Linked DNA regions of Homo sapiens. The protein of the gene in region 2 purifies or fractionates together with the protein of the main gene of each other region. This does not show direct contact. Each region holds a gene or a part of one and is shown on either strand. Other genes may lie near its edges.

Region 1 (3,500 bases), on a different chromosome or scaffold from region 2:
CAGAGTCTTGCTCTGTTGCCCAGGCTGGAGTGCAGTGGCACGATCTCGGCTCACTGCAACCTCTGCCTCCCAGGTTCAAGCAATTCTTGTGCCTTAGCCTCCTAAGTAGCTGGGATTACAGGTGCCTGCCCCCACGCCCAGCTAATTTTTGTATTTTTGGTAGAGATGGGGTTTTGCCACGTTGGCCAGGCTGGTCTCGAACTCTTGGCCTCAAGTGATCTGCCCGCCTTGGCCTCCCAAAGTATTGGGATTACAGACATGAGCAACCATGCCTGGCTGTTGTAGTTATCTTGATTGATAGGCAATATTATTGTCTTTTTGTAAGTGAGGTAATTATGTAGTTAAGAAGCTATAGTGAGACCCCTGTCTCTGCAAAATAAAACCTTAAAAATTAGCCAGGCACAGTGGTGGCAATGTTGCTTGAGGCTAGGAGTTCGAGACCAGCCTGGGCAACATAGCAAGACACCATCTCCACAAAAAATAAAAAATTAGCTGAGTGTAGTGGCACACACCTATAGTCCCAGCTACTCAGGAGACTGAGGTGGGAGATCACTTGAGCCCAGAAGTTTGAGGCTGCAATGAGCTATAATCATGCCACTGCACTCCAGCCTGGGCAACAGGGCAAGACTATGTATCAAATAAAAAAAAAAAAAGAAGACGTTAACTGCCTTTGCTGTATCCAGGTAACATCCCACATGGCTGCTGGACTGTACTAGTTCTAATTTCTTTTCTCTTCACCATATAAAACAGTTGAACACTTTTGATTAACCATGGATAAGATGGTAACATTCTGAGTTTCTGCCTCCAGAAACACTGATGCTTGATTTGCCAAACAAACATAGCATCACAAAGCATCATCATCATATTTTTTTGTGTATGCTTTAAAATGCTAATATTACTATTATTTATACCAGTCCCATCATCACAAGAAAAAATAATTCTGTAAAAATTCCTTTTGGAGCAAGCAAACAAATTAGCAGAATATGGCATCTTTTCCAGCACCATTAAAGGCACTGCAGATATCAGTTCGAAAGCTTGGTAAGAAAAGAAAAGTCAGACCAATCAAATGCGCCAAAGGATTAGTGGTTAAACCCATTTTATAAGGTCCATGAAGAAATCAGTTCTCTGATTTTGAGGGGAAGACCAGTATAGCCAAGTACAGAAATGTTTTAGTATCTGACAAAAAGGAAAAGACATAGTTTCACTGAACAGTCATCTTTGTTATAAATTCTGCAGTTAATAGCGTTAGGACCAAACCACCAACTACACAGGTGTTTTCCATAATTAATGTTCTTGTAAAGGAGCTTCAAAACAATTCTCCAGTTAAATAAAGGGATGCCCCAGTTTACTAAAGACTCAGAAAGCTCTTGTGGGCACTGCAGAATACTAAGGACAGATATCAGATACATACCCGAGATGATAATGACTTTCAGATCGTTGCTGTCAGCGTCATGAAGAATGTCACTTTGGAGAGACTTCAGCATTGCAAGTGACAACGCGTTCCTCTTCTTGGGATTGCTCAAGACGATGTTCCTGTGAAGAACATTTTACAATCACAGGGTCACACACCAGTCAAAACAAGTGAGGACCCCTGCGATTCCTGTCTAATTTAGGAGGTATTTTTAACAGACAAGAAAGGAGAACTGCTGGGGCTTAGTGCCAATTTAGAGGGTCTGTCAACTCTCTGGAGTTACAGCCAAGTCAAAACAAGAAAAAGGCGACCTGAAATGCAGGCTGGGTTTCCTCCCTCTTCCCTTGATTTGTTTCTCTTTTTCTCCATGTTTGCTGTCAGAAACATGACTGCCACCTCCACGGAGAGGGCAATGCACAGCGGTTCCAAAATCAACACCACCCAGAGAGGCTGCAAGCTTAGCATGATAGCAGGCGCTGGAGAAATCTGACAAACAGTGGCTACCTTCCACTGCTTTCTTTCCATTGTTCCTTAGAAAAAAGTTAGAAAACGAGCCCAGAATGAAAATAACTCCCTCTATAGATCTCGGCTCACTGCAACCTCCACCTCCCCGGTTCAAGCAATTCTCCTGCTTCAGCCTCCCGAGTAGCTGGGACTACAGGTGCCCGCCACCACACTTGGCTAATTTCATATTTTTAGTAGAGATGGGGTTTCACCATGTTGGCTAGGCTGGTCTTGAACTCCTGATCTCAGGTGATCCGCTTGCCTCAGCCTCCCAAAGTTTTGAGATTATAGGCATGAGCCACCATGCCCGACCCAATTTTTTATATTTAATTTTTGTGGGTACATATAGTAGGTGTATATATATTTATGGGGTACATGGGATGTTTTGACACAGGCAAGCAATGCGCAATAATCACGTGATGGAAGATGGGGTATCCATCCCTTCAAGCATTTATCCTTTGTGGATGACAAAGGATAAATCAACAATCCAATGATACTCTTTTAGTTAGTTTCAAATGTACAATTAAATTATTATTGACTATAGTCACCCTGTTGTGCTATAGAATTCTCGGCCTTATTCATTCATTCTATTTTTCTGTACCCACTCCATCTTTTTTTTTTTTTTTTTTTTTTTTTTTGAGATGGAGTTTCACTCTTGTTGCCCAGGCTGGAGTGCATTGGCATGATCTCAGCTCACTGCAACCTCTGCCTCCCGGGTTCAAGTGATTCTCTTGCCTCAGGCTCCCAAGTAGCTGGGATTGCAGGTGTGTGCCACCACACCCAGCTAATTTTTGTATTTTTAGTAGAGCTGAGGTTTCACCATGTTGGCCAGGCTGGTCTCAAATTCTTGACCACAGGTGATACACCCGCCTCAGCCTCCCAAAGTGCTGGGATTACAGACGTGAGCTACTGCACCTAGGCCCGTCTTTTCTTACAGTGGCATCCTGTAAGTTTACAAAACAATTCATGCTGTCTGCAAGTGGGCTGATACATGAAGGAAAAAAGTACAAGCCACACAGCAAGAGGGCTCTTCTGGACATATCCTCTCACAAAAAGCTGGCGTCCAAAGGGCCTGTTTGCTCTTTTGAGGCATCCCACATGCTGAATAAAATAACCTGTATTGTCATCTTGCTGCTTATACACAGAAATGTCTTATTTTTGGCTGTTACAAGAAATGGGCAAAGAGCCAAACACCAGATTGTTATTATATATTTTATATGTTTCCTATCAGTTTTCACCTACAGGTTTCCTACCTTCCTCAATCTTTTTTGAATCTGATATTCCTTCCGCGGTACAGCCAACTTGGATCCTCCATAAATAGTATTCTGTGTCATGGTTTTCCGGAAAACAAGTTTGATGACTGAATTGATTTCAATAAGAATAACCACTTTCTTTGGAATACCATTTCAAGGTTGCTGCAGTCTTCAAGTGGCTGTGCTATTCATCTTGTTGTTTCTTATAAACATTGTTCTCTCCTAAGTACAAAAATTACTTGCACTGATTTGCTGATAGACTTCAAAACTTATATTTGGTGGGGGTGGTGGGAGAACTGCTTATAAACCTCTCCATCAAATATTGAGGGTGC
Region 2 (5,499 bases):
AACGCTGACCTATCCCTCATGCCTCGTGCAAACATCTAAAACTCCAAAGCTTTTGGAAGAAACCATAGGAAATCCTTATGACCTGACACTAGGCAGCAAAATTCAGAACTTTTGCTTCAAGACACTTTTAAGAGAAAGAAGACAAACTCCAGGCTGGGAGAGAAAACATTTGCAAATCACACATCCCACAAAGGACTGATATCCAGAATACATAAAGAACATACACAACTCAGCAGTAAGAAAACAAAACAGTCCAGTTAACTGTCAGCAAAAGAAATGAGCAGACAGTTTGCCAAAGAGGGTGTAAGGATGGCAGCTGGGGCTATCCTGTGTTGTTAGCAATTAGAGAAAGGCAAGCCGAAACCATGGGCAGACCCATGTCCACCTGCCCACATGCCGGTCGGGACACTGGTGCTGGCCAGGATGTGGCCACCTGGGACTCTGTTCTGCTGGCAGGGACACAGGTGAATAGATGAGCACGCCATGTCCATCTCTGCAGGGGCAGTGTCTGGGCAGTGAGGAGCCGTGGACTTCCGACACGTCTGCCACGTGACTGCATCCCAGGGGCCTCCGTGCAAGAGGGGCCCAGATCGGGAGGATCCGCGCGGTGCGATTCCTTCCCGCGGCCCATCCCTGAGGAGCCATCCCCGGGGTGCTGGGGGCACAGCAGCACGGGTGTGAGGGGCCACGTAAGCCGCCGCGTGTCCTGATTGTGGTTATGAATGCGTGAGTCCACATGTGGATAAAAATCTTAGAACTATATACCAGAAACGGTTTACTGATAATTGAAGAAGTACAGGAAACAGTGGTGTTCCATCTTTCAGAACAGATGGGACAATCCACAGTGTCCCTGAGTTACTGCTTTCTCTGGGTTTGCATTGTGGAAAAGGGTTTCCGTCTCTAACCTCCACTGTTTTGAGACCTGTCGCACACCTGTGGCCAGGTGCATCAGATGTCAGCTTGCAGTGTCAGGGTACCTGGAGCCAGTGTCTGACTCCTGCAGAGTGCTGAGCCATCCTGGCTGGGTCCTCGCCCTGGAAACATGGGCCTCAGCCTGGCCCTTAGGGGCTGGGCCTCCCCTACACCATCTGGGAACCCCAGGACAGTGGGGATACGTGCGTCCTCTACATCATTCTCGAGGAGCAGATGCTGAAAGGACTGTTGTCTCTGCATTCTCAGAGGGTCTGACAGCCTGGTGGCGATGCCCACGGTGAGGCCTGCAGCCTGGGAAGGTGGGCGTGAAGGTCATGCAGAGCTGTCCCAGGGGGAGGACAGCACCTGAGAGGCAGGTGTGGGCACTGCATCCCCGTCCTCATGGCCTGTCCATTTTGGGGCTGCACTTCCCCTTCGGGTGGGCTGAGTCAGCCCCGCACAGGGCACACATGAGAGCTCCTGGTTTGCATTCTGGAGGTGGGTGCTGGGAGGGGGTTGTCCTAGGGCCCTGGTGGTGCTGGGAGGTGGCCTGATGGCTGTTTCTGTTGCAGAGGGCAGGGTGCCAGCATGCAGGGCTTGCAGTGTCATCCTCTAGCTTCTTGGTAACTCTGGTGACTCCCCCCGGGATCTGCAGTGCACAGGCTGAGGGGCTTCTTGGACACAGCAGAGGGGTGCCCAGAGACGCTGGAGGCCCTGTGCCCAGAGATGCTGGAGGCCCTGTGCCCGGAGACGCTGGAGGCCCTGTGCCCGGAGACACTGGAGGCCCTGTGCCCAGCTGGGAGGATGGCTTCTCTGGCTGCGCAGGAAGTGGGCGAGCCCCCCGTGGCCCTGTCTCAGCCCTTGGGGCGTCTCCCCAGGTGCCTTGGTGGGCTCTGGAACCCAGGGCACGATGCTTGGAGCTGGCCAAGAGAAGAGTGGCCTCCAGAGTGGAGCCTGGGTCCATCCTTTTCAGCACTGCCCCACCCAGGGCCATTCCAAGAGGAACCGTGACTGGATGAGGAGGGTGGGAGCGGTTCATGTGGAGCCTGGTACTGGCAGACTGCCTGTTGGTCTAGCTGGGGCAGTGGAGGCGATGGTGGTTGTGGCCATGGTGTGGAGGGGGCGTTTGCTCAGTGGCCAGTACTGCTCTGTGCTGTGTGGCCCATTCCCACCTGTGGTGAGCTGGGAGCTGGCTCTCAGGGAGGAAATCCCGACCCATAGTGTTGGCTGTGTCTCAGGTGTGAGCACTCCCACCACAGCACTCTCCACTGCCTGTGGGTGGGGCTGCGGCATCGGCCCCAGCATGCCCTGGTTCAGGCCTGCGGGGGCGGCCGCTGTGGGCATGGCCTTGGAGGACTGAGACCCAGCACCGTGGCAGGGGGAGAGGGGTGGTGGCTGCCAGGTGGGTGCCCTGGGTTTTGGTGTTGTGCTGGGGGAGGAGGGGTGTTAGGGGCTGGGGGTCACCTTATATTAACATGAACTAGAGCACACCCTTGTCATGGCTGGACCCAACAGTAAGAGGCAAACCCAGGGTGTCCATGTCCCTAGGATGCTCCAGCCTGCTCTGGGGCCACGAGTCTCACATGAGGACTGGCCGCCCTTGTGTACAGGGGCAAGAGGGGGCCAGGTCCCTGTCCTGGCCAGGCTGTTAGCCGCAGGTACCCACAGAGACCACCGCCCTCCTCTGCTTTCCCCGGAGAGGGGCTTGGCTTCTAGCAGTCAGAGCAGGGCTCTCCCAAAGGGTGGGGCCTGGCCGGCGAGCCACAGCACAGCTTCCTGGGAAGAGAAGGAGCCTCTGTGTGCTTTCAAAATACAACAGAAAAACAGCAGCACGCACTTGTGTAAACGAATACAACTGAAGCCATGTAGAAGCGGAGAAAACGAAGATGACCCCTTCATTTAATCACACACCTGTACAGCCATGTGGCTGGCAGGCTCCCCAGCGTGATCCTGGCGTAGTTCTAAGTCAGCGCAGGCAGACCCCTCCATAGAGTGCAGTGTGGTCCCCGCAGACAGTGTGTGGGGACAGTGTGCATGTCCAGGGAGGGAGACACCTGGGTCTGCCACACCTCCGCTGCTGGCGCCACCTCTGCCCGCAGATGACCTGAGCGGGTGGGACCCAGTGGCTGGGTGGGTGTGCAGCGGGCGCATGCCCTGACCGTGTCTCTGTCTCCACAGACAGTACTACTGGTATGACGAGCGGGGGAAGAAGGTCAAGTGCACGGCCCCACAGTACGTTGACTTCGTCATGAGCTCCGTGCAGAAGCTGGTGACGGATGAGGACGTGTTCCCCACAAAATACGGTTCGTCTCCCCCAGCACTGGGCGGTCATCCTCACAGTGGGGCAGGGAGCATTCAGGACGTGTCTGCAAGTGACCAAGCTCCTGTGCCGGGAGGGGCAGAGGCACGGAGGGCGGCAGCTGCACCACCCCAGTCCCTGCTTAGCATGGAGCCACCTGGGCTGTGGGGTGAGGCCGGAGCCCTTGGGCAGGGGTCAGCCCAGCCAGGGCCAAGGGCCATCTCCCTGGCCCTCTGGGCCATGCGGCTGCACTGGGCCCCTCTTGGTTTCTGCCGCTCATGCTGCTCTCACCGTCCAGCTTGTGGGCACTTGGGCTGGGTATCAGCCGCCAAGCCTGTGTCCAGATTTTGGTGGGATGTGGTGGGGCTCCACGCCACTCCCGTGCTGCCAGAGGGACGGCAGGGGACAACAGGAGAGGCCTGTGCCACCATCGCCACCTCCGTCCTGGCCCGGGAGATGGCCCCAAGTGTCCATCAGGGAGACACCACGGGGGCCCGAGTGCCCGATCACAGGCCCCTTCCTGAGGAGGTGGCCAGGATGGCCCAACGAGCTCCCAGCCCTCAGGGCAGGTGCAGCCTCCGGAGCCTGAGCACGCAGGGAGGTCTCAGCAGCCCAGACCCGGGGTTGGCAAGTCCCTGTGGTGCCTGCTGATGGGCAGAAGCTGTTGCTGCTGGGGCTTTGTAGGCCCTGAGGGTGGCAGGGTCAAGGTGTGGGTGGCAGGTACCAGACCCACCAGGCTGGGTGCCAGGGGCCTGGCCTCTGTTGGGGCCAAGGGATGTCTGCAGCTTGTGACACGGTGGCCTTCCCCAGGCAGAGAATTCCCCAGCTCCTTTGAGTCCCTGGTGAGGAAGATCTGCAGACACCTGTTCCACGTGCTGGCACACATCTACTGGGCCCACTTCAAGGAGACGCTGGCCCTGGAGCTGCACGGACACTTGAACACGCTCTACGTCCACTTCATCCTCTTTGCTCGGGAGTTCAACCTGCTGGACCCCAAAGAGACCGCCATCATGGACGACCTCACCGAGGTGCTATGCAGCGGGGCCGGCGGGGTCCACAGTGGGGGCAGTGGGGATGGGGCCGGCAGCGGGGGCCCGGGAGCACAGAACCACGTGAAGGAGAGATGAGCCCCCCGGGCCGGACAGGGGCACACGTGTGCAAAGAGACGGTGGTGTGTGTTCTCTCCTGCATCTGCGTGTGCACACATGTGCTGGGCACGCGTGTGGTGAGGTCTGAGAGGGCCCCGGGCTGCACTGGTGTGGGCTGCACAGGCACAGACGCAGACGGCCCCGGCCGTGTCCTGTGGCCCCCTGTCGGATGGATGCGTGCCGTTTGTAGAGAAGAGCCTTTGGGCCCATTCACTCGTTCAGCAGACACGCATGGGACTGATGCTTTGAGTTTTCTTCTGTGGGGTTTTCCTTTCTCTGGTCTCCGTGCAGCCCCTGCCCTCCCTCGGGTGCTGCTGGCCTCAAAGGAGGAACTCGTGGGGGGAGGGTGTGATTTGCAGACCTGGGTCTCTGCTCTGCTCTGGGGGTGGGGCTTGCTTTCACAGAGACCCTCCTTCCCTCTCACCCCTCCTCTCCCGGCCTCGCCAGGAGTCTTGGCTGTTGGCAGCTCAGAGGTGGGGGAGGCCTGTGGTGTGAGGTGCCCTGCACCTGCTCCTGCTCCTGTCACCCCTTCCTGCTGCCTCCTCCATGCCCAAGGAACACCCATGGTGCAGTCCTCAGGCAAGGCCAGGACGGGGCTGAGGCCCTGCGTGGAGATGCTGCACCAGCGGAAGGCTGAGACCCGCTTACCTTAGTTCATCTGTTCACTCGTAATAAAAAGAATTCTCTCAGGTCAGAGCCTGTGTACGTCTCAGCGTCTCGGTGACCGCCCCCCCCCCACACTGTGGGCATCCCGGCCACTTGCTTGGTGGGCAGCCCCAGGAGCAGGCACCCCGGAGGCTGCCCCGAGAGTGGGGGTTGGAGCAGACTCGCCCCTCACTGCCTGCGAGGGTCCACAGCCAGCCTGCAGGTGCCGTGGGGGCAGCACATACCCTGTGTCACTCGCTCTTCCCAGCTGCCTCAGCCCCCTGCCTCTCCCCGTGCTGGTGGCGGGGACCCTCAAATGTGGCTGCAGTAAGCTGGAGACATCTTCTCCGAAGGGCTCTGGGCCAGCCTGAAACAGTGGCTCTGCCGCAGGGGCCATTCCTGGCCGGGACAGCGTGGCCCAGGGGCAAGCAGGTTTGTGTCCTCAGCCTGGGAGTGGGTGGGCACGTGCTGCAGGGAGAGGGGCCCTAAGCTGAA
Region 3 (3,500 bases), on a different chromosome or scaffold from region 2:
GCCCGATGCACCCGCCAGGCCCTCCCCAGATGCACCTTGCTGTCCCCGAGCTCACACCCCCGGGGCCCCTGAGCAGCTGAGCTCAGGGGCCCGATGCTGGCAGAAATCGCCGCCAGAACCGTCTCGCAAGCCCCACCAACATCGCCAGGTGGAGACCCCACTCGTGTCTCCAGGAGCCCCCCAAGAAAATGACACATTGGAGCCCTAACCTCCAATTCCACCACGTGACCTTATTTGGAGACAGGGTCTTTCTGGAGGTGAGAATTCATTTTGCCTCCTTTGGAGATAAGAGAATTCAAACAGGGTTCTTTGCGGGGAGCCCTGGTCCCATGGCTGGTGTCCTCATAAAAGGGAAATGTGGATGCAGATACAAACTGACAGGGGAAGAGGATGTGAAGGCACAGGGCGAAGACGGCCACCCCAGAGCCAAGGAGAGAGGCCGGGAAGATCCTCCCTCCTGCCCCCAGGAGGGCCCAGCCCTGCTCACACCTCCGTCCGGGACGTTGGCCTGCAGAACTGCGGGAGGACACTTTCCGTTGTTGAAACCGCCCGTTTGGGGGACCTTGCAAGGGCAGCTTGAGCAGGTGGACACCCCTGTCCTTGCCGGACAAAAATGCATCAGCTTCCCCCCACTCAGCAAGTGACCAGCTACCCATGGTGAGACGGCTGGAACTGGGACACAGCCCCAGCCACCGCTGCAAACCTGCAGGCTGTGGGATGGGGGCTGCAGGTTGCCCACCTCCGAGACATGGCATCCTCCAGGGTTTAATCTTCTCTTATTTGAAGCCTCAGAATTAAAATCAGGTATACCATGGCCCGGCTCCAAGACACACACCGTGGGCCAGGCACACAGTCGGTGCCCTATAAATGCGTGTGATGCATTTGTTCTGTGCTTGGTGAGATTTCTGTGGCAGTAACTTATTCTTTCAACACTGGCTGAAGGAATGAATTTGCCGTCTGTGTGTCGGTCACAAGATTTGCCCTGGCCAACTCTCCACCGTGCGTGCCCCTGCCCGGCCACACCTGCCCCCACCACCCCTCTAACTGACCCACGACCATCAACTTCAGCCCATGGAGTCCAGCCGGCCTCTGCCCCGGCGCCTCTGGGGGCTCTTGGGAATGTATACCCCCCTCCAAATTCCTGGGTGGCCGACATCACACTGTTTACTTCCTGGAACAAGATTCCGCCATGGAGTGGGGAGGGCGGGGGGGTGCAGGACTTGGAAGGGAAGGAGCCCCAGCCGAGGCACATCCAGCACATCAGGAGAGAATCCCACGGAGAAGGGAGCAGAGGGAGTGGGGAGAGGCAGGTGGACGGACAGAGAGAGCTGGAGAGAGAGAGGAAGACCCCAGCGGAGATGGTGGAGGGAGGCCCAAGAGAGACAGGGACCAGATGGCACAGTCGGGATGGCAGAGAGGGGACTCGGGGAAGGAGCAAACCTCAGAGACAGCGAGGACATGGCCAGGCAGAGCTCAGGAGAGGAGGGGGTGGGCAGGGGGCGGTGACGACTGGGGAGGGGAGGCCGCAGAGCCCCCACCTTGCACACTGGGCCTCTGGAAGGAAAGTGTGGGGCCCTGGGCAGTCCCCCTGCAGTAGGTGGACAGGCAGCCCCCTCCCGCGCCCGTCCTGGAGGGTTCCGGCCAGAGGCGGCCACAGAGGTCTGGCTACAGGCCCTGGGGCAGGAACAGAAGGCCTCTGTCCACAAGCAGCTTCCTGCTGACCCAACCCCGCGTGGGAGAGGAGGTCAGCCCACCCTCGGCCCTGGCCCAGGAAGTGAGGGCACTGCCTGGGAGCTTCTGGGTGGGGGCCTCTGCGTGAGTCTCTCCCCTGGCCCCCAACAATAGTGGTGTCTCGGGGAGCCCCGCCACCCTTGGGAGCCACTGCTGGAGGGCTCCATGCACTGCACAGCGGCCGCCCCAGCCACCCCCACTTCCTGGCCCAGCCCTGAGCCCGCCTCCAGAGCTGCAGGGACCAGGAAAACTTAAGGGACCCTGCCTTGGAACTGAGGGTGCAGCAGAGACCCAACTTCACGACACCCTCCCAAGGCCTGGCCACAAATCCGACAAATGCCCCCAGCCACGAACCCCAAGAAGGAGGCCGCAATGTTCTCCCACCTGCTGGACGGCTTCCTGCGCCACGCACAACGCCTGCCCTCCCTCCAGCCCTGCTCCCTCCCAGCCCAGACACGCTGTGCCCCCTGCCCCATCTGCCCGAGGGCTGTGCCTGGAGACCTGCTTGGGCCCAGGAATGAAAGGAGCCAGCCCATGGCAGAGCTGCTCCAGCCCCGACAGGCTGACTGGCTGAGGGAGGTGAGGCGGGAGGTGGGGCTGTTTGTTCTGGGTGGTTTCTGAGCTCACCTGGCTGCCCAGCTGCCCTGTGACACCAGTATGGAAACAGCGCCCGGGGGCAGGCGCCCTGAGGCCTGGCTGCAGAGAACCCACAGCCGCAGGTGAGACAGGGCAGGCGGGCACAGGCAGGCTGACCAGGCAGGGGACCCGCCCACCCTGCCACCTCCTGGTGGGCGTGGCTGGGCGATCCTGTTTCCTGGCCGTAAAGCGGAGATTCACGGACACCTCTCTGTACCTGTGGGGCTCCCCAGTGTGGTCACACGTGGCTCAAGGAGCCGGAACATGGTACACAGGAATGTCCGGATCCCCGCCCCCTCCACCCGGGGTCGGTGGGGCAGAGGCAGAACCAGGAGCCCGGGTGCCCCACCTGGCTGGCCTGGCGCCCGAGCTGGTTCCTTCACAGCTGCTCTCCCTGAGGGCCAAGCGGAAGTGCTCTCTGCGTGCAGCAGGAAGGACTAAGGCCAGACAAAGGGAAGGACTTCCTGGTGGCAGAGCTACAGACAGGGAGACAGGACGTCCACCCTTCTGCTGTCAAGGGGTCTTCACTGGAAGGAGAGGGGAATGAGGTGGCAAGGGCGGGGCCTCACACAGAGTCTGACCTCAGAGCTGCCCTGAGAGGACAACCGGTCTGTGCCTGTCCCTCACACGCGTTTCCTCCCTTCCTGAAGACTACTGGGGACAGGAGGGACAGCCAAGGGCTGCATGAGGAGACCTCCACCCCAGCCACCACCTCATCCAGAGGTACGGCAGGGAGCAGAGGCTGAGGGCACGGGATGGGGGTGATGAAGGCACAGAGGCAGGCACGTCCAAAGAGCCAGGGGCCAGGCGCGGCGGCTCACATCTGTAATCCCAGCGCTTCGGGAGGCTGAGGCAGGAGGATTACTTGAGGCCAGGAGTTCAAGACCAGCCTGGGCAATATAGCCAGAACCCATCTCAATTTAAAAAAGAAACAATATGCTGAGTGAAAGTAGCCAGACACAGGCCAGACGCAGTGGCTCGCGCCCATAACCCCAGAACTTTGGGAGGCTGAAGAGGGCAGATGGATCACTTGAGGTCAGGAGTTACACACCAGCCTGGCCAACATGGCAAAACCCCGTCTCTAGAAAAAATATGAAAATCGGCTGGGTGTGGGGGTGCACCCCTTTAACCCC

What was found. Proteins that work in one complex are often made in the same cells at the same time.
Region 1: the proteins of MOB2 (region 2) and ECHDC3 fractionate together in Homo sapiens (co-fractionation; one large-scale study listed by BioGRID). This does not show direct contact.
Region 3: the proteins of MOB2 (region 2) and MICALL2 fractionate together in Homo sapiens (co-fractionation; one large-scale study listed by BioGRID). This does not show direct contact.

The regions. Positions count from the first base shown.
Region 1 is NC_000010.11:11,745,382-11,748,881, reverse strand, and holds part of ECHDC3 (enoyl-CoA hydratase domain-containing protein 3, mitochondrial precursor), read right to left. Parts: intron 1,534-3,500; coding exon 1,412-1,533; intron 1-1,411. UniProt on the Homo sapiens protein: May play a role in fatty acid biosynthesis and insulin sensitivity.
Region 2 is NC_000011.10:1,469,011-1,474,509, reverse strand, and holds the end of MOB2 (MOB kinase activator 2), read left to right. Parts: intron 1-3,090; coding exon 3,091-3,215; intron 3,216-4,021; coding exon 4,022-4,338; 3' UTR 4,339-5,053; downstream 5,054-5,499. UniProt on the Homo sapiens protein: Stimulates the autophosphorylation and kinase activity of STK38 and STK38L.
Region 3 is NC_000007.14:1,452,971-1,456,470, forward strand, and holds part of MICALL2 (MICAL-like protein 2), read right to left. Parts: intron 2,458-3,500; exon of another isoform or gene 2,359-2,457; intron 1-2,358. UniProt on the Homo sapiens protein: Effector of small Rab GTPases which is involved in junctional complexes assembly through the regulation of cell adhesion molecules transport to the plasma membrane and actin cytoskeleton reorganization.